7 linked regions of the Homo sapiens genome follow. The protein of the gene in region 1 interacts with the protein of each later gene in a pairwise test. Each region holds a gene or a part of one and is shown in the gene's direction. Other genes may lie near its edges. The genes, in order: MEP1B, TM4SF20, SLC35A3, FAM3B, CPNE3, C11orf24 and TM4SF5.

Evidence for each region.
Region 2: the proteins of MEP1B (region 1) and TM4SF20 interact in a protein complementation assay, tested with the Homo sapiens proteins (one study listed by IntAct).
Region 3: the proteins of MEP1B (region 1) and SLC35A3 interact in a protein complementation assay, tested with the Homo sapiens proteins (one study listed by IntAct).
Region 4: the proteins of MEP1B (region 1) and FAM3B interact in a protein complementation assay, tested with the Homo sapiens proteins (one study listed by IntAct).
Region 5: the proteins of MEP1B (region 1) and CPNE3 interact in a protein complementation assay, tested with the Homo sapiens proteins (one study listed by IntAct).
Region 6: the proteins of MEP1B (region 1) and C11orf24 interact in a protein complementation assay, tested with the Homo sapiens proteins (one study listed by IntAct).
Region 7: the proteins of MEP1B (region 1) and TM4SF5 interact in a protein complementation assay, tested with the Homo sapiens proteins (one study listed by IntAct).

Annotation. Positions count from the first base shown.
Region 1 is NC_000018.10:32,217,472-32,220,904, forward strand, and holds the end of MEP1B (meprin A subunit beta isoform 1 precursor), read left to right. Parts: intron 1-289; coding exon 290-494; intron 495-2,759; coding exon 2,760-2,774; 3' UTR 2,775-2,933; downstream 2,934-3,433. UniProt on the Homo sapiens protein: Membrane metallopeptidase that sheds many membrane-bound proteins. Exhibits a strong preference for acidic amino acids at the P1' position. Known substrates include: FGF19, VGFA, IL1B, IL18, procollagen I and III, E-cadherin, KLK7, gastrin, ADAM10, tenascin-C.
Region 2 is NC_000002.12:227,369,307-227,372,806, reverse strand, and holds part of TM4SF20 (transmembrane 4 L6 family member 20), read left to right. Parts: intron 1-1,826; coding exon 1,827-1,892; intron 1,893-3,500. UniProt on the Homo sapiens protein: Polytopic transmembrane protein that inhibits regulated intramembrane proteolysis (RIP) of CREB3L1, inhibiting its activation and the induction of collagen synthesis.
Region 3 is NC_000001.11:100,028,996-100,032,495, forward strand, and holds part of SLC35A3 (UDP-N-acetylglucosamine transporter), read left to right. Parts: 3' UTR 1-3,500. UniProt on the Homo sapiens protein: Transports diphosphate-N-acetylglucosamine (UDP-GlcNAc) from the cytosol into the lumen of the Golgi apparatus, functioning as an antiporter that exchanges UDP-N-acetyl-alpha-D-glucosamine for UMP.
Region 4 is NC_000021.9:41,323,301-41,326,800, forward strand, and holds part of FAM3B (protein FAM3B isoform a precursor), read left to right. Parts: intron 1-3,500. UniProt on the Homo sapiens protein: Induces apoptosis of alpha and beta cells in a dose- and time-dependent manner.
Region 5 is NC_000008.11:86,545,435-86,548,934, forward strand, and holds part of CPNE3 (copine-3), read left to right. Parts: intron 1-1,160; coding exon 1,161-1,247; intron 1,248-2,276; coding exon 2,277-2,336; intron 2,337-2,866; coding exon 2,867-3,000; intron 3,001-3,500. UniProt on the Homo sapiens protein: Calcium-dependent phospholipid-binding protein that plays a role in ERBB2-mediated tumor cell migration in response to growth factor heregulin stimulation.
Region 6 is NC_000011.10:68,261,974-68,265,473, reverse strand, and holds part of C11orf24 (uncharacterized protein C11orf24 isoform 1 precursor), read left to right. Parts: intron 1-1,607; 5' UTR 1,608-1,706; coding exon 1,707-1,782; intron 1,783-1,790; exon of another isoform or gene 1,791-1,901; intron 1,902-2,555; coding exon 2,556-3,500.
Region 7 is NC_000017.11:4,770,402-4,774,685, forward strand, and holds the start of TM4SF5 (transmembrane 4 L6 family member 5), read left to right. Parts: upstream 1-1,484; 5' UTR 1,485-1,521; coding exon 1,522-1,698; intron 1,699-4,284. UniProt on the Homo sapiens protein: Acts as a lysosomal membrane arginine sensor.

The DNA of each region.
Region 1 (3,433 bases):
CATGGGACACTGAGAACTAAACTTTCTCTGTTATCTGTGCTATCGGCCTTTCCTAACTTGGAGATACTGTTTTAGTATCAGATTAGGAGGAATTCCATTTTTTCTTTCCATTGTTTATACCTGTGCTCTAGGTGCTAGTCTCTCTCCAGTCCAGAGTGGGTAAAATAGTTTCATATAGCAATGACCTATTGGTGATCAAATAGACTAAAGGTGATCCACATCTTTAACTGTGAAGATTTCTGGAGTTAGATATCAACTAATAACTCTGAGTCATGCTCTCAACATGCAGGTGCCAGTCAGGGGAAGACTGGTGGTACATGGGAGAAAGGTGTGAAAAGAGAGGCTCCACCCGAGACACCATAGTCATTGCTGTTTCATCTACTGTTGCTGTGTTTGCCTTGATGCTGATCATCACCCTTGTCAGTGTCTATTGCACCAGGAAGAAATATCGTGAAAGGATGAGCTCAAATCGACCAAATTTGACTCCGCAAAATGTAAGTTGAGGCTGATGTTTGATTATTCATAACCTATTGGTGAAATCTTATGGAGAGGAACTAGGACATTTTTTATATACTTTGGTTCTTGCCTTCTTCTCTCTGTTTCCTATGCTGGGACAACTGATTTCAGATTATAAAAGTTCCTATTACTTTCACTGTAAATCAACGATTCTTAAACTGGGATTTATGGAGGTTCATTATCCTCCTGGAATTGTATACAACATTGTGTACAGTTGTGTGTGTGGGTTTTTTTCCTGGAGTGTGGGGTGGTCTGTGACCTGAAAGGCACAACTGATTTTGCCTGAAAGTTCAAACCTTCCTGGTAAAGGGAAGAGGTGGCCTGCAAGTGTTTTTGTTCTAAAGGTCTTGTAGTGGTGGTGAGCTGAGGCCATAGGAAGGGGATGCAGGCATGTTTGGGGAAGCTTTTTCATTAAAGAAGGTTCCAGTTCATTCTGGCTTCATGTGGAATAACTAATTCTAAGGCAAGTTTTCAAGTAAAGGATTTAAAGTCTTGCCTCAAAAAATCTCTAGAATGCTAATAGACTCCTGAAACGATCCTGTTTCCAGTGGGTCCCTTGGGAAGCTGACTCTGAGATGGATATTTGTACGCAGGAGGTTTATTGGGGAGGGCTCCTGGAACACGTATAATAGGCTGAGGGAGCTGGCCTGGGCAGAGGGTGAGGTTGGAATGTGATGTGGTTGCAGCTGAGGCCTCAGCCCATCCTTCAGGGAGCTCTGGAGTGGGGATGACTCCCTCTTAGGCACGTCCTGAATCGAGGGAGGGGGCCAGGCCTTTGTACTCCCATCACTGGAAGGGGGCTGCCCTCAAAGAGGGGGCATAAAATTGGGCAAGGCAACGGCCTTTGGGGGAGGGCATTTCTTGCATAACAGCCTTCATTCAAAGGGCAGGACAAAGCAGCAGTTCCCTAGCATCCACTACATACTCCAGCAGTAGAGTACAGAGTTTTACATGCAGATTCATATTCCTCTCAAAGAAGCACAGAGAAAGTGGCATAAAATCTGAGCATTACTTAAAAGTGAAGCCCTAAAATTCTTCCATTTCTATTTCATTCCAATTGGAGTCTCTGAAAATTGCTACTGAAGCCAGTCAGAAAAAATGCCCAATTAGAATATCTCCAAAAATAAAAATACTGCAATTGGCTAAAGCAAGAGTACATTTTCTTAAGAAAAACGATTATTCAAGACATACTATATTTAAAGCTACGAGTTTTTAAAGGGGACAGCCTGGTATCAAGTCAGTCAAAACATGAACAATGATAATGAACTGAAAGCAAATCGTTGTATTATCGTAGGCTGTTGTCCTATTTCCTCAACATCAGGAAGATGTTTAATGCTAATAATAAGGCAATAGATCAATTACTTCACAAAATTATTAGAAAAGTATTTAAAATATAAACAGGTTGTTTTGTTTTAAGACAACTTTCAGCTTATTTTATGACTCAAAATAAAAGGGGAAGATCAGTGAATACTTGGCCTGGTAGGTCAACCTGATGGCAGCTGTGCCTGCAAGTTCGGTCTCCTGGGCCATTGGGATGAGCCAGGAGTTGGTGCATGGAAGGTGGAAGAGTAGAAGGGCAGGAGGGGACAAGTTAACTGGGTGGATGGGATTGCCAGGATATTTCCCTGACAATGAATGGGTAGTGTAACAGCTGTTATAAGCAAGTATAAACTTGCTTAGCAAGTAAAAACTGGAAGGAGTTAAAGAAAAATGACAAAACCAAAGAGAAGAGAAAGAAGGAAGCTAGGAAGCTAAGTCAATAAAGCAGGGAAACCATGACAGTATTAGAGACATGGTAAGGATAGTAAGTGGAAACACACATGCACACACACACACACACACACTCCATAATATTACAACAGAGCTGTTTTGTTTCTGGGTCATTTAAACACATTCCTAAGGACAAGGCAGTTGACTTACATTATCTTAGGCTAGGCATTTCTACAGCTAATTCACTGGTAACAGATCTCCCAGATGTCGTTTAGATCTTAAATCAGAATGACCTTTTTTTCTGAGGCGAATGTATGTGTTCACCCTAATGTTTTAGCATCTGAATAATGTGGGCCCGAAAAGCCAGGGCTCGAAATGGAGACCAGGAGCAGGAGCCATTGCCAGCTAGGAGGGAGGCCAGGAGACTGCTGATGGGGACTTCATTTAAAGACCAGATCATTTTATTATGATTCATTTAAATAGCAGTTTTTAAATTTAGAAATTAAATCATCAATTGTTCTTTCCCCTTTTAGCAGCATGCTTTTTGAAGATTAACTCGACAATATGGCCAGCTAATGAAATTAAAAAGGATTCTTCATCATGGATTTCGCCTAAGTGATATTACAGCCACCTCATTCTTCTAAAAGTGGATATTTTTCTGTAAATAGCTGGAAATATTATAAATCACTATTTTGGTCAAAGTCAAATTGGTGAAATGCTGTTTGTGTTTCCTTCTTTTAAATGAGAGAAAAGCAATTCAGGCTCTTCTGGAAGTATAATATTGTCTAGAAAAAAGGGAGAGCAACAGTTAGAGATGGCTTTTCAAATTACTGATCCTTCCATATGGGGGCCAAGTGTGGTGTCCTCACAAGTGATTCCTTAGAAACCCACTAGAAACACCCAATGGGAATGATCATCCATGCAGAATCACAGCAGTTTCAGTGCCATCCTTTCCCAGCATTGGGAAGGGTAATGAGACAGCTCCCCACTCTCTGTCAATATACATTCTTCTCCAAAACTGGCTACTCTTGTTTTCTTATATAATCCCTTTGGTACATGAGCTTGGTTTAGAATTTGTTTGAGCATACGACTGTAATCAGCAAGAAAACCTTTCACTCTTTGAGTGGCAAGTCTCCAAGTTTTGGATCTCAGGAATCTTTACACTTTAAAAATTACTGAGGATCTCAAATAGGTTACTGAGGATCTC
Region 2 (3,500 bases), on another chromosome or scaffold:
CTTGAGCCCTGGGTGTTGAGGCTGCAGTGAACCGTGATCATGCCACCGCACTTCAGCCTGGGTGACAGAGTGAGACCCTGTCTCAAAAAAACAAAACAAAACAAAAAACTATGTGGGCTCTGCACCCCAAATGACTAGCTTTTTTTGTTGTTGTTGTTTGTTTTTTTGAGATAGAGTCTCGCTCTGTCGCCAGGCCGGAGTGCAGTCACATGATCTCAGCTAACTGCAACCTCTGTCTCCCAGGTTCAAGTAATTCTGCCTCAGCTTCCTGAGTAGCTGGGGCTACAGGTGTGCACCACCTCGCCCAGCTAATTTTTGTATTTTTAGTAGAGACGGGGTTTCCTCATGTTGGCCAGGCTGGTCTCGATCTCCTGACCTCGTGATCCACCCACCTCGGCCTCCTAAAGTGCTGGGATTACAGACATGAGCCACCGCGCCCAGCCAAATGACTAGTTTTGAATCCCAACCCTTCTACCAAGAAAGTAGAAGGACAATTTGAGTAATTTGTCCTTTCTATGCCTCAGTTTTCTCATTGGTAAAATGGGAATAATAATAGCACCTACCTCATAGGATTATTATGAGGATGGAATAAACTAAGGCGTGTAAAGTGCCTGTAACAGAGTCTGGCATTCGCCAGAGCTCGGGAAAATGTTAGAGAATGAGAGTAGAAGGAGAGAGAAAAACCACTCAAGGGCAGCTGTGCTGAGATGGCAAAAAAACCTACGCCTAAAATTTCTCAAGCGGAAGGAAATAATTACATTCCACCCTTCAATGATACAAAACTCCTTCCAGTAAGAATTTCTAGTCGTAGCTGCTGCCTAGATATACTAAAAATTGAAACCCAAGTCCTGAGAATATGGTGTTCTTTCTTACAGCTTTCCTTGGCAACGTGTATTTCCCTGAAGGCAGAATGCGATCTATAGATTTCTGAGCATCAATATATAAAGTGAGATCATTACATATCATGGATATAGGAAGAGAAAGGAGAACGTGGAACCAAAAATAATTCTCAAATATAAGTTTGGGGAAACCAGCAAGATAGCCGGGATCCTGGGAAAAGAAAGGCTAGTGGGAGTGGGTGGTGACAGAATGATTTGTTCCCAACTGCCAGGCAAACAAAACCATCAATTTCTTTTCTGCAGGTTTGCCAGAATAATCCATACAATTTCTGGGAAATCGGGCCAGGCGTAATGGCTCACATCTTTAGTTTTCTTGGCAGGAGGTTTTCTTGAGGCCAGGAGTTCAGGACCAGTCTGGGCAACAGAGTGAGATCTTGCTTCTACAAAAATATTTTTAAAATTAGCCAGGTGTGGTGGTCTACACCTGTGGTCCTAGCTACTCAGGAGGCTAAGGCAGGAGGATTATTTGAGCCCAGGAGTTCAAGGCTACAGTGAGCTATGCTCGTATCACTGCACTCTGGCCTGGGTAAGAGAGTGAGACCCCTACTCTTTAAACAAACAAACAACAGAGTTTGGATGATGCAGCCAATTCTTTCAGAAACATTTCTTCCAAAAATAATGTATAAATAAGTCATCCTAATCTATTTAAAATCCAATTCTCTGCAGATGACTCAGAGTGAACTAAGAATGTAGATAGAAGACTTCAAAACTCCTGTCTTGAATTCCCCTGTTCCCGCCGCCACTTTTAATCTTTCTGGTTGAAACTGGGATGACAAGGTTCACAAAACCACGGATATTGCCAAATTCCCTTTTTGTTCTTTGAGCCTTGATTTCCCACAACTGGTGGTAAACGGAAGGTGAAGATTACTATTTTTTCTTCTGATGAGAAGTTATAATACTCATCTTTCCTGTTGATGTCATTTCCAGGCCATTCCAGCAACAACAATGTCCTTGACAGCAAGAAAAAGAGCGTGCTGCAACAACAGAACTGGAGTAAGTATGAAGCAGTCGGCGTGGAAGCAGAAGTGCATGAACAGTTATTGCTACCTAAGCAAAGCCACACTGAGTCACTCGCATCTACCGAATCACAGTGGGGCTCCACTGACAGAGCCACAGCCTTAGAAACATGCTATTTTTATTTATTTATTTAGAGACAGGGTCTTGCTCTGTTGCTGAGACTGGAGTGCAGTGGTGCGATCTCGGTTCACTGAAACTTCTGCCTCCCGGGATCAAGCAATTCTCCTGCCTCAGCCTCCTGAATAGCTGGGACTACAGGTGCACACCATCACGCCCAGCTAATTTTTGTATTTTTAGTAGAGATGGGGGTTTCAACATGTTGGTCAGGCTGGTCTCAAACTCCTGACCTCGAGTGATCTGCTCGCCTCGGCCTCCCAAAGTGCTGGGATTACAGGTTTGAGCCACTGCGCCTGGCCTGAAACATGCTATTTAGGATGATTATATAGAAGTAGAAAAAGTGAGACGGGTTTTTTTGTCCCACAAACATTTAGAGTTGGCCTTCTGTCCCTTCCTCAGTCTTCCGTGGATTGTCCTTTCCTCAATCTAAAGGTTTTCAAAGAAAGGAGATTGGTAAGTCACGCCCACAGCTGCAATCAATTTCATAATACTCGGGTGTGATATTTTTGTGGCGTATATAAAATACTCAGGGAAAATGTACTCAGTTCTCTCATGCAATGACAGACTGGTTTGCTAGGATTAGAATGACAATTGCCTTTATCCAGTTAAATTAAAGGAGCTGCCAGGTTTTTTTCCCCCAAAACATTTAATGCCTACCCACTATGTATAAAGTCGTAACGAAGTTAAAAGTAAATTAAGATTCATTAACCGGAGTGTCACTCTGCTCAGAACACTTTCAGAGATGCTGTTTCATTTAATTCTCTCAAAACCCTTAAGTGGGAAAAAGTAAGAAGTGTGTTTGATTGACGAAGGAATGGACGCTCAGAGAAAGTAAATAATTTGCCAGTGTAGCACACTAGTAAGTGGATTTTTATCCAAACCCACTGGAGCACCCCACAATTCATGATCTTTATACCATGAACATGGCTATTAAGCAACATAAGGACTCTCACAATTCCCTGTGGAAGGGGTAGATTGACAGCAAGCAGTCACAGTAAATCTGCTTGGCTGAGCTTGAGCTTTCAGAGCAATGGTTCTCAGATGGATGGGAACATTAGGCTGGGCACGGTGGCTCACAGCACTTTGGGAGGCTGAGGTGGGAGGATCACTTGAGGTCTAGAATTCAAGACCAGCCTGGCCAACATGGTGAAACCCCGTCTCTACTAAAAATACAAAAATTAGCTGGGCACGGTGGCCCATGCCTGTAATCCCAGATACTCAGAAGGTTGATGCAGGAGAATCTCTTGAACCCAGGAGGCAAAGGTTTCAGTGAGCCGAGATCACATCACTGCACTTCAGCCTGGGCAACAGATGAGTAAGACTCTCTCAAAAAAAAAAAAAAAAAAGACAGATGGGGATATTAGAATTATCTAAAGAGATTTAAAAAAATACCAGTGCCTGGGTGGCCGCCAGAGATTCTGCATCAGTATTTTTCAAAAGCACTCAAGATAATTTGGCCAGGGGTTA
Region 3 (3,500 bases), on another chromosome or scaffold:
TCTACTCCTGACCACAATGTTTGACAGTACACACATAGTATTGCCATTCAGGGAAGCTCACCTAAGCTTTGGTGTCCAGATTTTTATTGAGAGAGGCTCTATTAGTTGGCATGGTTGGTTGATTTTTTTGCCCATGTAGTTGTCCTCTCTTTCCAACATCTGCCCCTCCCTGGAGATCTGGTTGACATCAAGACTTCAGGGCCTCACCATAGGTTATCTCGTTAGCATAAACTGTCAAGTGTTGTCTAAGGAACCCACAATGAATAATAAAGACATTCCTATCAGTGAGAACTCCCAAAGACTTACACCAGAACTTTCTTTGGATGGGCCAAATTTCTTACTACACAAAGACCATTCATCTCTATACACTTCCTTCTGAATTGATGAGGATGATACAAGCAACGACAATTCTTCTTTTCAGAGACTTTTAATTTTTTTTTTTTTTTTTTTTTTGAGATGGAGTCTCGCTCTGTCACTCAGGCTGGAGTTCAGCGGCACGATCTCTGCTCACTGCAACCTCCGCCTCCTGGGTTTGAGCAATTCTCCTACCTCAGCCTCCCAAGTAGCTGGGATTACTGGTGCTCACCACCACGCCCAACTAATTTTTGTATTTTTGGTAGAGACGGGTTTTCACCATGTTGGCCAGGCTGGTCTCGAACTCCTGACCTCAGGTGATCTGCCGGCCTTGGCCTCCCAAAGTGCTGGGATTACAGGCATGAGCCATCACACCCAGCCCAGAGACTTTTAATTTATACATTGTCATTTTTAATTTTAGAATATCTGTCAAATGATTCTGAACATAACATGAATCTAGTGTGGAAAAATGTTTATAATCAGATATTGTGTTAAGAACATATATATATATATAGAGAGAGAGAGAGCATAGTATTGTCATTTAGTTTTCACTTCTTATGTTTAATGACAACTTTATAAATGCTGGACTATTTTAAACTACAAATTTAAAACATGGTTTATAAACCTTTTACCTGTACTGCATATTAATAAACAATTTTGAACTAATTTTAAATTAGGCATTCCTATCACCATTATAAGGAAGAGCTAAAACCTGATACCAGTTGTTATTTTGGCTCACAGTAGGGCTTCACTAGTGTTAGGATCACATTTTCCTCCCTTGGACCTGAGAATCAGGTGTTTTTCGTTTAATGCATTTATTTTCATTCATTCATTTAGGATTTCTAAAATGTTAGAGGTAATTTGTTTAAAACAAATAACATGGTGTTCTTTTGGAAATATACAGTTTATCTTAGATATACACTTTCCTCATTTTAAAGGTAGAACTCACTGCAGGTTTAAAAGAATAATGAATATTGTTACAGTGTTTAGTGATAATCACTGAAAATTCACGTTAAAATATACTTTAAGCTTGTCCAACGCGCGGCCTGCAGGCTGCATGCAGCCCAGGATGGCTTTGAATGTGGCTCAACACAAATTTGTAAACTTTCTTAAAACAGTATGAGATTTTTTTGCAATTTTTTAAAGCTCATCAGCTATTATTAGTTACTGTATTTTATATGTGGCCCAAGACAATTCTTCTTCTTTAAGGGTGACCCAGGGAAGCCAAAAGATTGGACACCCCAGCTTTAAATGTAGAGTATTTAAGAGGTTCAGTTAAATGTACTAAATCAGACTTGTGTGATTTAGACACAAAATCTGTGTGTGTGTGTGTTTGGTCTTTTAAAAGATACTGCATGTACAAACATGATTTCTAATAATTGAGGGTTTATTAAGTTTTTCCCTTTAGGCTAAAGTTTTATTTTATTCTGCTTGGATAGTAAATACAGCATTTTAAAATGATGATGCTAAGTGCTTTTTTAATATATGCATGCTGCTTCAATAGGTCTTTTAAATATAGCCAAGGCAGGGTAATATTTCCTGAGTGATGATAGAATTATAGAAAATCATGAAAGATGTGTGCCCATGTTTCATTTTATAACTGTTCCAGTCATATTGCTATGAATTCTAGAATTTTAAAACCTGCCACACTTATTTTGGATGTTATATACACATAATGCCTCAAATTTCCATTATTTCATATTATTTTTCTCCATTTCCCTCGTGTCAAGTTTCATTTTGTTTTCAATGTTTTGTTTTTATAATATTGCCATTTTAATGGCTTCAATCATGCTATGACAGATTGTGCCAATTTAGCTTTAAAAAACTCATGGGCTACCTCCATGAACTCACACATGCGGCATTGTTAAAGAACCTTTTTTAAAATTAAATTTTCTCCAGCTTTTCATTTTGCAGCATACAAAAAAATTGAAAAATTGGTATACCACCTAAATCCAACCATTATTAACATTTTGCCACACTAGCTTTATCTCTGTTGGGACACTTTACCCCTACATACTCCAGCATGCGTGACCTAAAGATATGGACATCTTCTTAATTAACCTCAGTGCCATTATGACACCTAAGAAAATTTAAATTAATTCAGGTCACTTCATCTAAGTTCAAATTCAAATACAATTGCCCCTCTGTAAACGTGGGGGATTGGTTCCAGGACCCCCACCTCGTGTATACCAAAATTTGGGCACACTCAAGTCCTTAAGGGGAAACCGCGTATAAGAAAAGTCAGCCCTCCCTATGGGTGGGTTTCACATCCTGCAAATAACTGTGTTTTCCATCTGCATTTGGCTGAAAAAAAATCTGCATATAAGTGGACCCATGCAGTTCAAATCTGTTGTTCAAGAGTCAACTGTATTCCCAGTTGTCTCAAAAATGATTTTTTATAGCTTTTTTGTTTTGGAACGAGGGTAAAATCAAGGTTAATGCTTTGTATTTGATTGTCTCCTTTGGTCTTGAAGTCCCCTTCCTGCACCACCACCTGCCCCTCAATGGCTTTTTTATACCAAGAGACTGAAAATGCTACCTCTAATGACTTTTCTCCCCATGATAGTACTCTTTGAAGGACCAAAGTTACTTTGCTCCTATTATGTGGTTTGATTTGTTCCCTTTATTCCTTTCATGTCCTTTGAACTGGAAGTCAAGTCTATAGGTTTGATTACCTTCAGGTTAAATGTATTGGGTAAAAATATTTCACAGATTTTATATTGTATCATATTAAAAGGCACAGATAATCTCATTATTAATGTTGGTAATTATTTGGTTAAGATGATGACTACCCCATTGTAAAGGTTATTGTAAAGTTCTCCCTGTGGTAAAGGTCATTTGTTCACCCTTAGTAATCTATGGAGTAATGTTTTAGCACCAGGAGAATATTCTGTTTCCCAATGCCTTTAGCATCAATTGATGATTCTTGACTGAATCATTTATTACACTGGGGTGCAAAATGGTGATAAATTTTTTTTAGTGCTCTAAATTTCTTCTACATTTATTAGTTTATATTCTTTTTTAAAATAAAAAAGTATATTTCCCTCCTGTTTCTCTAATATCCCTCTTTAAAAAAAAGACCATGTCTTCATGAATTTAAAAAAAATTACTCAATATATTATAGCCAATCGGTCACAGTTCTTTTT
Region 4 (3,500 bases), on another chromosome or scaffold:
TGCAGCCAGACCTTGAACTGTGCTCTTTCCGCCCAGATCTTGGCTTCCTCCCCTGGGAAGCACAGGAGGGTCCAGGTTCTGAGATCCCGAATCATTTTAAGGTTTCTGTCGGACTGAAGAGCTGTTGGAAAATCTTCTGTAAAGTCTTGGGAAGCAAAAGCTAGTAATTGAGTAGATGTGAAAGAAAGGGCAGACATTGTATGTCGGTGAACACACGGCCTCAACCATCAGCTTAGGAAAGGCCCAGCTCTCTGTAGGGCGGCTGCTTTCTGTCCTTCCCCACAATCAAGGTGGGTTTTCTGAGAGCCTGCTGTGTGCTGGGCATGTCCAGGAGCTAAGGAGAGACGGAGGACAAGCCCACGAGGTCCCTGCCCCTTTGGCACTGATACCCTAGTGAGGGGAGGTGACAGCTTAACGCATGAACAAATGAGATTCGAGAGAGGATGGGTGGGGAAAGCCTCTGAGAAGGAGGTGACAATTGAGAAGCATCTCAGTGAAGCAAGGGAGTGGGCCATGCTGGGTTCTGAGGGCTGTGTGCCAGTTTGGGAGCATCATGACTTAGTCTACCCAGATTACTGTAAGAGAACACCATAGACTGGGGGCCTTATAAACAACGCATTTATTTCTGACAGTGTTGGAGGCTGGGAAGTTCAAGATCAAGGTACCCGCAGATTTCATGTCTGGTGGAGACCTGCATTCTGCTTCATGGATGGCTCCTTCTGGCAAACGAGGTCTCTGAAGCTCCTTTTATAAGGGCACTACTCCCATTCCTGAAGGCTTCATCTGCCAAAGGCCCCACCTCCTAACACCAGCACTCTGGGGATTAGGTTCCAACATATGAATTTCAGGGGGACACATTCAGTCCACAGCACATGAGTTGCAAACTGGGGGCCCAGAGACAGACCTGTCAGAGACAAGATTTGTCTAAAAGCAAAACACATAAAATATGGACAAGTATTTCAAAATCAAGAGATCTCCCATAAAACTCCATGTTAGAGCATCTCTTGAAACAGTAGAAGCTCTGATACCCCAGGCCCTCATTCCTGCAAGGCCATGATCAGCCACAGCTGGGCAGGCTGTGGTTACACAAGGGCGAGAGTATGGCCAGGACCAAAGGGATTCATCCAGTGGCCAGTAAAGTCACAGGAACAGGGAAGAAACAAGGAAAACGAGGTCCTTGTGCTTTATACATAGATTATCTGTAAGTCACACTGATCACTATGTTCTTTACTTCCTGGTTTCAATCTTATTTTACAATACACATTCTGGGACAGACTGAATTATCGCCGAAGGAAATGCCTACTGTGAAAGTCCATTTATTTATTAATTCAGCAGGTATATTTAGTAACAGCATCCCTCTCTGGGCCGTGGTCTGAGTGCACGTGTTTTAAGGTTCATCCTTTACTTCTAAGAACCTCAGAGTCTACTAGAGAAGAACTTAAAAGCCAAATCATAATGTTAGGAAACTGAACAAAGAAAATTAATGTGCAGCGTATGTTGAACAAAAATATGCATTTGGGGCCTGGCGCAGTGGCTCACACCTATAATCGCAGCACTTTGGGAGGCCGAGGCGGGCACATCACCTGAGGTCAAGAGTTCCAGACCAGCTTGGCCAACGTGGTGAAACCCTGTCTCTACTAAAAATACAAAAATTAGCTGGACATGGTTGCAGGTGCCTGTAATCCCAGCTACTCGGGAGGCTGAGGCAGGAGAATAGCTTGAACCCAGTAGGTGGAGGTTGCAGTCAGCCAAGATTGTGCCACTGCATTCCAGCCTGAGTGGCAGAGACTCCTTCTCAAAAACAAAAACAAAAAGAAAACAAAACAAAAAACATATATATGCATTTGGAATACAACTCCAATTGGGAAGGGGTGAAAGAAGCATTTGGGTGCCAAATGCACACCCAGCCATACTACCTTCACTGTACTCAGAGGCACCTAATAAATCATGAGCATTGATTAGCAGAGAAACACTCTTTGATGGCTTCTGGTCTTTGGTTTTTGCGGACTGGACTTTTAATCTCCTATAGAACAATGAGGTAGTTGAAATGGTCAAAATGCCATATGCAAACAGCCACCTTCTTTGTTTGCCTGGTCTATATTGTCAGGATCTTATTTCATGACTCAATATTTCTAGTGACTTTGCATGGATCTCCTACCCTCTGGAATAATCTTCCTCATTTATAGGAGTTAAAATGAGATCATAGTTCCCAAATCAGGAAGTATTTTTAAAAGACAGATTCCTGGACCCCACTCTGGGAAATTCAAAGCTCCCTAGGTCCAGGGTGGAAGCCAAGAACCTGTATTTATTTTAATTTGTTTTAAAACTTGGCTTCATACAGAGCCAAATTTGATCATCCTGGAACTAAACGGTCACTATGGTTTCTTTTAAATCTAAGGTTCTTTGTGATTTGTATCTAAATTTCATAAAACCTCCTCTCCACCCTTCCAAGTCCCAGTCTACATATTCCTGTGGTTACAGCATATCTGGGGAAAGCCACCAGGAGAGTCCGGACGCAAGGCTGTGCGAGCTCTATAGCTGGGTTCTCATTGCTGTCGCTACTTTCAGAGCTGGGTGAAGCAGCTATTGTATTATAAACCAGGAGCTGCTCGTGAGGATGAGGAACCAGGTGGATTTTCCTCAGCAAGAGAATAATTTCTCAGACTGAAACTGATAGCAGAAGGCTGACTGCATCCTAGGGAATGGTGTTGCTGCTGGAGGCTTTCAGTCTTAAACAAACCAGCTTTTCATGAGGCATAAGAAACAGGAGACTAAATAGAAGGTCCGCCGTTCTCCCTGGCTAGGACACTGGCTTCTACGTAAGCCACATGAACTTTACCTTTTGATTGTTTGGGGGAAGGAATTTCAGGAAAAGCACTGAAGACCTAGATGTGGTTCTCCAGGCAGGGTTTGGAAAGAGCTGTGTTTTCCCAGGAGCTGTGTCCACCCTCCAATCCCACACTGAGTTAGGAACATGGTCTTCTTTCTTCATTCACGTGGTGACACATTGTGCTTCTGGGAAACGGATGGGGGACTCAGAAAGCTACTGACTCTTTTTTTAAATGACACATGGGTTCCCTGCCCACTCCCAGGCCCTGTGAGGAAACACAAATGCCCATCTGTGTGTCACCCATAGTCACTAAAGCCACATACTCCCTGGAGGATATGAGGCACATCAAACACCTCCCTTCTGGAAAGCCCTCCTGCGCATGTCCACACGAAACAGGACTCTCACTTTGCAGAGCGCCAGGGGCTGCAAGTCTAGAAGCTGGGGAGGAGGCCATGCTCATGGCTGACGGGCTGCCAGGCCCTGGCGTGGGGACCTGCTCGTTCTGCTGCCGATCCCGTAGGGGAAGTCCCTGGGGAGAGCATCCCTATGGGACCCCCACAATGGCCCCGCTGGAGACGCCAGCACCAGCCCTTTGGGTGAGTGTCCTGGGTCCAAGGGTGGGAGTGCTGGGCAGGCCTGTGTAGTAGGCCTGTGTACCCTGAGCCCCAGC
Region 5 (3,500 bases), on another chromosome or scaffold:
AGGTATAAATGAATAAGTGAAGTAATCTAGCCCTTTTTCAATGAGAATTCGGTTTGTGGAATTTCTTTAGCTCTAATATATAATAATTTTTTATTGTTTTTCCTTTCTTTAATTTCTAATACTCAACAATTAATACTTATGATTGTGACTGAGACTCCAGCAAGATCCTGAACCATCAAAGAATTTGTTTAACATAATTTTGTTTCACATCATTGTATTATACCACGTGTATTTTTTAGTGTTTGATTCTTGGAAAACTAGTAATGACTGTCTGAAGTACATAAGTGGCTTTGTGTTAACCAGAAGAGGTGACTTATCAAGCATTTATTGAATATCTCTTATATTATTATTAGGCAAGACAGTGAGAATTTGAAGGTATAAGTTGGAGGTGATTATAATGTCACTGTGAAGAAAAAATTAAATGAGACACTTGAAAATAACACAGAGTATGTAACTAAATTTCATATAGTTGTAGAAATTTAAAGAGGTAGATAGAGATCAGAGAAGACTAGAGTAGCAGTGGAAGTTACAGAGGAGAACAACTTGAGCCAAGCCCTAAAGATGGATAGGGGGATAGGAAGGGGAAGGAAGATCATTCTTTTGGGGGAAGGAAATATAAACAAGAGGAGGTGTTAGATCAATTTTTAACATGTATTCCCAGTGGAAAGAGAAGATCTTTGATGCATATTTTACCATAGAGTTGGGCTTCATATATTTGTTTTATGATGTTATTTTTTTTTCTTTTCTTTGCAGCATATTTTCGTTCTTTATGTTGGTAACAGCTAGGAGTAATATTTTATTTCCTTTATTATACCATGTTATATCATAGGGCCCAACTCTATGGTAAAATATGCAGCAAAGAGAAAAAAGATTATGCCTTGGAACATTTGCAAGGAAATTACCTGCAGAGGTAAAATTTATTTGGGAGAAATATTTTGAAAGGTATGCAATTTTAGGAGTGCCTTAATTGTTGGAAATTTACCTGATAAATATTCCACATACTTAACATATTATGTAATTGTTTCAGAGTTATATTTTGCAACAGACCTACATCAGTAGGTAGTTTGATTCTAAAGGAAAAAAAGTCATTCATTTAAAGTCACATTGGCATTTCTAATATTGCTAATAAAAAGTAACATTTTTGTCTTCTCTTCCTACAGGTTGAATTTGAATGCATAAATGAGAAAAAAAGGCAAAAGAAAAAAAGCTACAAGAATTCAGGTGTTATCAGTGTGAAACAGTGTGAGGTCCGTTGGCCTTGGCTACTTATTTTTATTTATTTATTTATTCTTTTTGAGCTGGAGCCTCGCTCTGTTGCCCAGGCTGGAGCGCAGTGGTGTGATCTCGGCTCACTGCAACCTCTGCCTCCTGGGTTCAAGCAATTCTCTGCCTCAGCCTCCCAGGTAGCTGGGATTACAGGCACCCACCACTACACCTGGCTAATTTTTGTATTTTTAGTGGAGACAGGGTTTCACCATGTTGGCCAGGCTGGTCTTGAACTCCTGACCTTGTGATCCACCCACCTTGGCCTCCCAAAGTGCTGGGATTACAGGTGTGAGCCACCGCATCCGACCCAAGCCTTGGCTACTTATAATATAATGAGATTATATTTCAAGTTCTCCTGTTAGTATGTTTATATTAAACAAATACTTGAATTTCAGGCAGTTGAAAATCACATGAGCATCTGGTCACCTTTAGCAAAAAGAATCAAGTAGGGAAGAACAAAAAAATCAAGTAACCTGTTTCCAAGGTTTGACAACTTATTTGCAAAGGACAAGGATAAGTTTTTCGTTATCTTAGGAAATATAAAGCATCATAGTATTTTCTCAGCTCTTTAGTGGAAATGACCTTACCCAATGCATTTATCCTCTTCATACTTTCAATATAAAATGTTATGAGTAAAGGGGAAAAGCCAAGATTTTTTAGGGTGAACAAGTGGAATGGAGTTTTTGTTTTTTAAAATGTTGACTGCTATGCTTTTTAAAGCCCTCAACATATTGGATTCATTACTAATATCTTAAAACTTAAAATGAGTGTATTTCATCTTTCGCCATTAGTATTCTAATCTTAACATTGCTACAATTATCTTGAAGCAGAATTTTACAGATTCATGGCACATAGGGGAAGGGGTATCTTAAACCTGAATGCAGGGGTAATTTCCATGTTTATATCATGTCCTGTTCAATTTACAGACTTTTAAAAATATATGCCAAAGAGTTTTTTGCTTCTCTTGTATAGTAGGAGAGTTGTAATTTTAAGTTTTCTCTTATTTTTAGATTACAGTAGAATGCACATTCCTTGACTATATAATGGGAGGATGTCAGCTGAATTTTACTGTAAGTAACACACTGAATTTTTCAGCATAGGCTTTTTCCTCCATGTTGCAGTATATTTTCTTTCACTGCAAAACTGACTTTGTAATGAAATTTTCACAATCTGTTTAGCATAGTCCTCTTAGAGTCCTCAGGCAGGTTGTCTGGGCTCATCATGAAGCTCTCAGTTTTGTTGATGAGATCTCTTCCTCCTGAGAGAAAGCAGATGTATACAAACCTACAAACTAGTGGTTATCCTGAACTAATTTAAGGACTAGAAAGCATTAGTGAGACAACCTTATAAAAGACAACCCTTAAGCTTAAGTAATGGATACAATAATTCATTATTTAAGCCATCTAGAAAAGTAGAAGCATCAGGTTGTTTCACATTTAGGCTTTACTTGTTTAATTGTCTATGGAAATAGTGGTAGGCATTTGTTAGGAAGTAGGCGCCAGGATGCATGATTGTATCCCATCTCTTGAAGTTTTCCTGGACATCAAGCACAGGTGTCCCTGCCTTCTCCTTACTAAGGGCTGCAATTGTTATTTGGCAGGTGGGAGTGGACTTCACTGGCTCCAATGGTGACCCAAGGTCTCCAGACTCCCTTCATTACATCAGCCCCAATGGCGTTAATGAGTATTTGACTGCTCTCTGGTCTGTGGGACTGGTCATTCAAGATTATGATGCGTGAGTATGACTTTGGAAAAACTAAAATACATGTTTTCACAATTCCCCAGAAAGGGTAGTTTGTTTCATCGGCTAGCACTCTGATATAGGTGGTAGGTTGATGATGCTTTCTCCCTAAAATCCCCCCGTCTTATCTTCTATTTTTCTCCTTGTGGCAATCTTGCTGTTTACCTTAGATCTCTAATATCTTTCTGTGATTAGTTATCATATATGGCATGTACTTTGCTTTATATTACATATAGTTTGCTACTTACTTCCTGACTGAATGTCAGCAAGGCTCTTGTTTCTTTAGTCTGGTTTCCTTGGGGCTTATTCATTAGGCATAAGTTGTATGAGTGATTGAAGCCCAGATGACATGTTTTATAAATACTGTTTATAAATACTAAATATTATTTATGTTAAATACTAAATACTATTTATAAATACTAAATACTATTTATGTTAAGAAATAAAAACTATTTCTTAGCATATCTATGTCCTTGGCAGTTGCCAAATTATTT
Region 6 (3,500 bases), on another chromosome or scaffold:
CATTAGAATGAAGGAGAGGGCTTTGCTTTACAGCAACTTGGGCCGGCTGTGGGGACCACTGCAGTCTCTGAAGTGGGTCAGTCACTCATTCACTCATGCCTTCATTCATTGAGAGAGCCTCTGTATCAGGTGCCTGGATCGCTGCCCCTCACTGGCTGCCCCTGCCTCCCCTCTTGCTAAAAGCACCTTTCTGTTCTTGTCTAAGGCCCCGGAGGGACTCGCATCCCCCTACTGTGAAATCTAAACTGCCACATGGCTCATGGGGCCTCCTCACGCTCTCCAGACTAATTCCCGCCTCACCACGCTCTTCCTTGCCTCTGACCCTGCTGTTGTCATCTGCTGCTCCCTCTCCACCTGCCTGCCCACCCCCACCCAGCTTTCAGAATGCGGCCCAGGCATCGCTTTCCCAGGAAGCCTTCCTTGGCATGCCGACCACACCACCACTGGCTGAACTGTGTCCTCTGGGCCCCTGTGGCACCCTGTCCTCTGGGGCCCAGCCACCCTTGGGGCTTCTGCCCAGAGTATCAGCCTACCTCACTCTTCAAGGCCTGCCCGCATACTGTCTCCTCCTTGCTTCCCAGCACTGAGTCACACCCTGCACAATGCTTGTGCCAGCCTGCAATGACCTCTTTTCTGTGTCTCCCATGGACTGCAGGTCCCTGAAGAGCTTGTGTGTTTTTCACCTTTTTGTCCTAAGTGTACTGCCTGGCACATGAGAAAGCACTAAGTAAATATTGGATGAAAGGATGGCTGGGTGCATGGATGGGTGGGTGGGTGGATGGATGGATAGATGAACAGATGGATAGGATATGGTGGGTGGATGGATGGATGAGTGGGTGGATGGATGGGTGGATGGATGGATGGATGGATGGATGGACTTATGGATGGACAGGTGAGTAGATGGATAGAATAGTGGGTGGATGGATGGATGGATGGATGGATGGATGGATGAGTGGGTGGATGGATGAGTGGGTGGATGGATGGGTGGGTGGATGGATGGATGGATGGATAGATGGGTAAGTGGGTAAGTGGATGGATGGATGGGTGAGTGGATGGATGGATGGACAGATGAGTAGATGGATAGAATAGTGGGTGGATGGATGGGTGGGCGGGCAGGTGGATGGATGAATGGGTGGATTGATGGATGAATGGTTAAGTAGTATCTCCCATGTGAAAGGCACAGTCACCTGTCACAGGGTGCACATGGGGTGCATTAGGCTTGATTTGTACTCTGCAGACTATGGGGGAAGCTGAGGAGGAAGACTTGACCAGTCTTGGTGATGAGAAGGCCTTCACCCTATGAACACAACCAAGTCTTAGCCCTCTCTCCTGCTCCTTTAAACTCTGAACTCTAGGATGGGAGAATGGGAACTTTTGCAGGTTGAGATTCATAGTGAAATCGGGTCAAGAAGTGATCAGATGCAAAGCACAGGGCAGTTCATTACTATACCATGGCTGAGGTCTTCCTGGGCACCAGGCCCTGGTCTCAGCACTTGGCTCAGTCTGCACCTTGGACCCTGCCAGAGCCCTCCACAGCAGGTGCTCTCAGGCAAGGCTGTGTGTTGCTGGCCAGACGCCTTCTGACCAGCGTGCTTTCTTGACCACAGATCCCTTGGCCAAGCAGGAGGGAACCATTAGCAGCCTGAGGAGCTGGCTGGCTGGGAGCCTCGGGGACCGCCCAGCCTTGCTCCCAGCTCACCCACAAGATGTGGACAGCTCTTGTGCTCATTTGGATTTTCTCCTTGTCCTTATCTGAAAGCCATGCGGCATCCAACGATCCACGTAAGTGAGAAAGCTGTGTGACTGCTGGATGGGCCCACGGTGGCCACAAAGCATGCTGAGCCCTTGAAAGCAGCATCTGCAAACCCAGGCCAACGCGTCAGGAACCGCAGCCCTCCCAGGTGCCGCACAGGGAAGGGTTGTCAGGCCAACCTTCCTTCTCCAGGGCCATGGTGGGCAAAGAGCCCCTAGCAGGACCAGGCAGCTGAGCCCTGAAAGGTTTGCTCGCTTGGCCTGCAAGATTTGATGTCATCTCTAAATTGAATCTTCACTGGGGAATTGATTCCTTCATACATCAGATCTTTAACTGCGTTCCCACTCTGTGCCATTCATTTCCAAGAATTCCTGCAGTGAATCCTTTCACAAAGCCAAGCGTTCTTTTATGATGTGAATACCTGTGCAGTTTATCTGCTTTGTAAACCTGGGTGTGCGTTCAGTGGGCTTTTAATGGTGAATCACACCTGTTGTGTGAGACTTTTACTCTGATGTTTTGGGAATTGGATCAAATAGTGAAGGTCTGAAGCCTTCAATGGGCAGGGGGTTCATAGAGGGCAAAGGAGTTTTAAAATCAAATTGACAAGGGCTTTTTCAATGAGCTGCATGCCAACAGTGGGAAGAGAGATGGGGAGGAAGCATGTTCGCACATCACCTCCCCCGACTCTGGCTGGGCTGAGGAGGGGGCCCCACAGGCCTGGGTGGAAGCCGATCCCTGAGCAATCCCCCTGTGCAGGATTGAACATGATTGTCTCTCTTTTTCTCCTTTTTCTGACTTTAAGGCAACTTTGTCCCTAACAAAATGTGGAAGGGATTAGTCAAGAGGAATGCATCTGTGGAAACAGTTGATAATAAAACGTCTGAGGATGTAACCATGGCAGCAGCTTCTCCTGTCACATTGACCAAAGGGACTTCGGCAGCCCACCTCAACTCTATGGAAGTCACAACAGAGGACACAAGCAGGACAGATGTGAGTGAACCAGCAACTTCAGGAGGTGCAGCTGATGGTGTGACCTCCATTGCTCCCACGGCTGTGGCCTCCAGTACGACTGCGGCCTCCATTACGACTGCGGCCTCCAGTATGACTGTGGCCTCCAGTGCTCCCACGACTGCAGCCTCCAGTACAACTGTGGCCTCCATTGCTCCCACGACTGCAGCCTCCAGTATGACTGCGGCCTCCAGCACTCCCATGACACTTGCACTCCCCGCGCCCACGTCCACTTCCACAGGGCGGACCCCGTCCACTACCGCCACTGGGCATCCATCTCTCAGCACAGCCCTCGCACAAGTGCCAAAGAGCAGCGCGTTGCCAAGAACAGCAACCCTGGCCACATTGGCCACACGTGCTCAGACTGTAGCGACCACAGCAAACACAAGCAGCCCCATGAGCACTCGTCCAAGTCCTTCCAAGCACATGCCCAGTGACACCGCGGCAAGCCCTGTACCCCCTATGCGTCCCCAAGCACAAGGTCCCATTAGCCAGGTGTCAGTGGACCAGCCTGTGGTTAACACAACAAATAAATCCACACCCATGCCCTCAAACACAACCCCAGAGCCCGCCCCCACCCCCACAGTGGTGACCACCACCAAGGCACAAGCCAGGGAGCCAACTGCCAGCCCAGTGCCAGTACCTCACACCAGCCCAATCCCTGAGATGGAGGCCATGTCCCCCACGACACAGCCAAGCCCCATGCCATATACCCAGAGGGCCGCTGGGCCAGGCACAT
Region 7 (4,284 bases), on another chromosome or scaffold:
GGCAACAAAGGGAGACCCTGGTCTCAAAAACATTTTTTTAATTAAAAAAAAAAGAAGTCGACTGGGTGGCTTGGCTCATGCTTGTAATCCCAGCACTTTGGGAGGCTGAGGCAGGTGGATCATTTGAGGTGAGGAGTTTGAGACCAGCCTGGCCAACATGGTGAAACCCCGTCTCTACTAAAAATACAAAAATTAGCTGGGTGTGGTGGTGGGCGCCTGTAATCCCAGCTACTTGGGAGGCTGAGGCAGGAGAATCGCTTGAACCCAGGAGGCGGAGGTTGCAGTGAGCCAAGATCACGCCACTGCTCTCCAGCCTGGGCGGCAGAGTGAGACTCCGTCTCAAAAAAAAAAGAAGTTATCAAGGAAACTGCAGCACCCCAACAAAAACAGAACTTCTTTGACCTCAGAATGGAAAAATGGCAGAAGCTGATTCTCACAGAGTTGGCTCAGATCGCATGGCTGTTGCTAAATCAAACACCGAGGCTAGCAGGATAGAACGCTCTCATCAATGAGGCCTAGGTCCCGAGCCCACCCTGAGAGACAGGCAGTGGCCTCAAGAGGAGGAGACATCAATAATCAAATACCAGGAAGACGAAATGCAAGGACAATAAGAGCCCACAATCACCTCTTTAATTTCTCCCTGGGAAGAATGCTGCCTGAGAGGCTGGCAGAAACGAAGAGGCCACCACACATCTGCTCTGTGCTTCCTAGTTTACAAAATACTTCTCAGGTTGTCCCATTTAATCCTCACAAGTAGCCCACAAGGCAAGTGGCATCACTTATTTATTTATCTATTTATTTATTTATTTATTTATTTACTTTTTGAGACAGAGTTTCATTCTTGTCACTTTATTTACTTATTTATTTATTTTTCGAGACAGAGTTTCACTCTTGTCACCCAGGCTGGAGTGCAATGGCACAATCTCAGCTCACTGCAACCTCCACCTTCCAGGTTCAAGTGATCCTCCTGCTTCAGCCTCTCGAATAGCTGGGATTACAGGTGCCCGCCACCATGCACAGATAACTTTTGCATTTTTAGTAGTGACGGGGTTTCACCACGTTGGCCAGGCTGGTCTCAAACTCCTGACCTCAGGTGATCCACCCTCCTCGGCCTCCCAAAGTGCTGGGATTACAGGTGTGAGCCACCGTGCCCAGACACAAGTGGCAACTGAGACTTAAGAGACATGAAGGGGCTTGGCTAAGTTGCAAAGCAGGTATGGAACCAACAGAGGGGCTGTGGAGCTGTGCAGAAAAAACAGGAAGGCACTAACCCAGGGTAATGTGTCCATAGCCCCCACCTTGTCCAGCACCACATCCTCCCTTCACCTCAGGGCTGCAGCTCCTCCGCCTCTGCCTCCTCAGGGCCCACATCCTGTGCCTCTCTCCCTTATCATTCTGATCCTGCCAGTTTCTGCCACGCCTCTGTCTGAACTTTGCTCCGTGCTCCAGGCTTGTTTTCCTCTGGACCTGGGAACCACTGGCTTACTTTCACTCACCGCCTGTCCTTCCTGACACCTCACCATGTGTACGGGAAAATGTGCCCGCTGTGTGGGGCTCTCCCTCATTACCCTCTGCCTCGTCTGCATTGTGGCCAACGCCCTCCTGCTGGTACCTAATGGGGAGACCTCCTGGACCAACACCAACCATCTCAGCTTGCAAGTCTGGCTCATGGGCGGCTTCATTGGCGGGGGCCTAATGGTGAGAAGGCTGGCAGGGGAGCCCGGGCCAGCTGGCTGGGTGCCACCTAAGGGGTTCTGAACAGGAGGGAGAGGGAGAGAGGAATAAGAATGGTTGCTTGGGAGAGGATGGCAATGGCTTCGTGGGGGCTAGCAGCCCTCTGGAGTCAGTCCTGGAGGAGCCCCAGGGTCCCAAGCTGAATGTCTGTGGGGCACAGAAAGGACGAGAGCCTCACTGCTCTAAAGAGCTCCCCTACCGGGTAGGGAGCATGTCCTGCCTGTCCTCCCTGTCCCCACTGTTGAGCAGATGCTGGGAAAACCTCACTACAATGGTCGAGGCAGAAGGAGCAGCTGGTTGTCAGAGACGTCATCGGGGCAGGATAATAACAGGCATGAGGGTGGGGCGCAGTGAAATTACCCAGAGCCAGGGACTGCCCTCACGGATCAGTCACCCTCGCTTGCCTCCACGTCCATTCACTCTCACCCCACATTTCTGGAAGCCCAATCTGTGCGGACTGCTAAGGATAAACTCAGAACTTAGGTCAGTATGGCAGGGAGGATGCCCTCAAGTCGTCTTCCGGGAGATGAGAATCTATTTGCCAGGGGCGGAGGTGGGGGTTGGTTTTTGTGTTTGTTTTTTGTTTTTTTTTTTTTTTGAGACAGGGTCTCTCTCTGTTGCCCAGGCTGGAGTGTGGTGGTGCGAACATGGCTCACTGTAGCCCCAACCTCCTGGGCCCAAGCAGTCCTCCCACCTCAGCCTCCGAGCAGCTGGAACCACAGGTGGGCATCACCACACCCAGCTAACTTTTAAATATTTTATTTATTTTTATTATTATTATTTTTTTGAGACGGAGTCTCGCTCTGTCGCCCAGGCTGGAGTGCAGTGGCGCCATCTCCGTTCACTGCAACCTCTGTCTCCTGGGTTTAAGCAATTCTCCTGCCTCAGCCTCCTGAGTAGCTGGGATTACGGTCACGTGCCACCACACCCAGCTAATTTTTGCATTTTCAGTAGAGACAGGGTTTCGCCACGTTGGCTAGGCTGGTCTCGAACTCCTGACCTCAGGTGATCCGCCCCCCTCGGCCTCCCAAAGTGCTGGGATTACAGATGTGAGCCACCGCCCCAGCTTACATTTTTTGTAGAGACGGAGTATCTCTGTGTTGCCCAGACTGGTCTCAAACTCCTGGATTCAAGTGATCCTCCTGCCTCAGCCTCCCAAAGTGCTAGAATTATAGATGTGAGCCACCACGCCTGGCCAAGACTAGGATCTGTCAGAAGTGGAGGAAAAGGAGACACAGATTTCCCCAATTTACTAACCCCCATCTTCCAACTCTCCACCCATTCAGGGAAACTTTGGGATGGTCAACCTCGTTTAATATCTTCATGCGATAAAGACAAAAGATCTACCCAGCACAGTTCCCCACTTCTCAGGACAGTTGGCTAATGACATTCTCCAGGGGAGAGCTCCCCTTGGTCCCTTTTGCTGGTCACACCTCGCTGGTCACACCTCTATTTGCTAAAAGAGGATACCTCTCCTTTAACCAACAATCCCCTCTTACTCTCTAGTATCTTTTCTTCTACTCCCTCCTCCTGCATGGATTCTTGGCTGCTGTACTCTACTCTATCGCTCTAAACTCAACTCTCTTTGAGAGTCACACTCCTCTCAGGCTGACACACTTAGCCATTGTCACGGGGTGCTCCCTCTGCAACCTGAACCACCCCTGTCTCCCCACACTCCTCTGCCCCATCTAACCAGCTTGCTTCAGCGGAGCTCCCTGAGTCTGCCTTCCCCAAATATGCATTCACAGCTGCCTTCCCTCCACCTCTGTGCCCAGAGTCACTCTCAAGAAGCACCACCCGGTGGGCATGGTGGCTTACGCCTGTAATCCCAACACTTTGGGAGGCCGAGGCGGGCCAATCACCTGAGGTCAGGAGTTCAAGACCAGCCTGGCCAACATGGTGAAACCCCGTCTCTACTTAAAGAAATATACAAAAATTAGCCAGGCATAGTGGCGGGCGCCTGTAATCCCAGCTACTCGGGAGACTGAGGCAGGAGAACCCGGGAGGCAGAGGTTGCAGTGAGGCGAGATTGCGCCATTGTGCTCCAGCCTGGGCGACAGAGCAAGACTCCATCTCATACATAAATAAACAAATAAATAAGCACTGCTGTATATCACAGGGACACAGACAGGTTCCTGCTCTCCCTGAAGCTTGTGTTCCCTTTGGTAAGGCCACCAGTCTCACGGAAGCAAGGCTGGAAGTCCCACGAGAGCAAGCACTGCCTGCTTTGTTGGCCACTATGTACCCAGTGCTAGACCAGCACCTTGCACTAAACAGACACCCAATTAATAGTCATGGAATGGCAGCGTGTGCCTGTAGTCCTAGTTTGGGCCCAGAAATGAAAGATTGCAGTGAGCTATGACCACGCGCCACTGCACTCCAGCCTGGGCAACAGAGCAAGACCTTGTCTCAAGAAAATAAAAAATAAAAAAGTCATTGAATGAAGTATAGAACTAGGCAAGGCAATTTCAGATAGAAGTAGGTACCATCGGCCGGGCGCAGTGGCTCATGCCTGTAATCCCAGCACTTTGGGAGGCTGAGGCAGGCGGA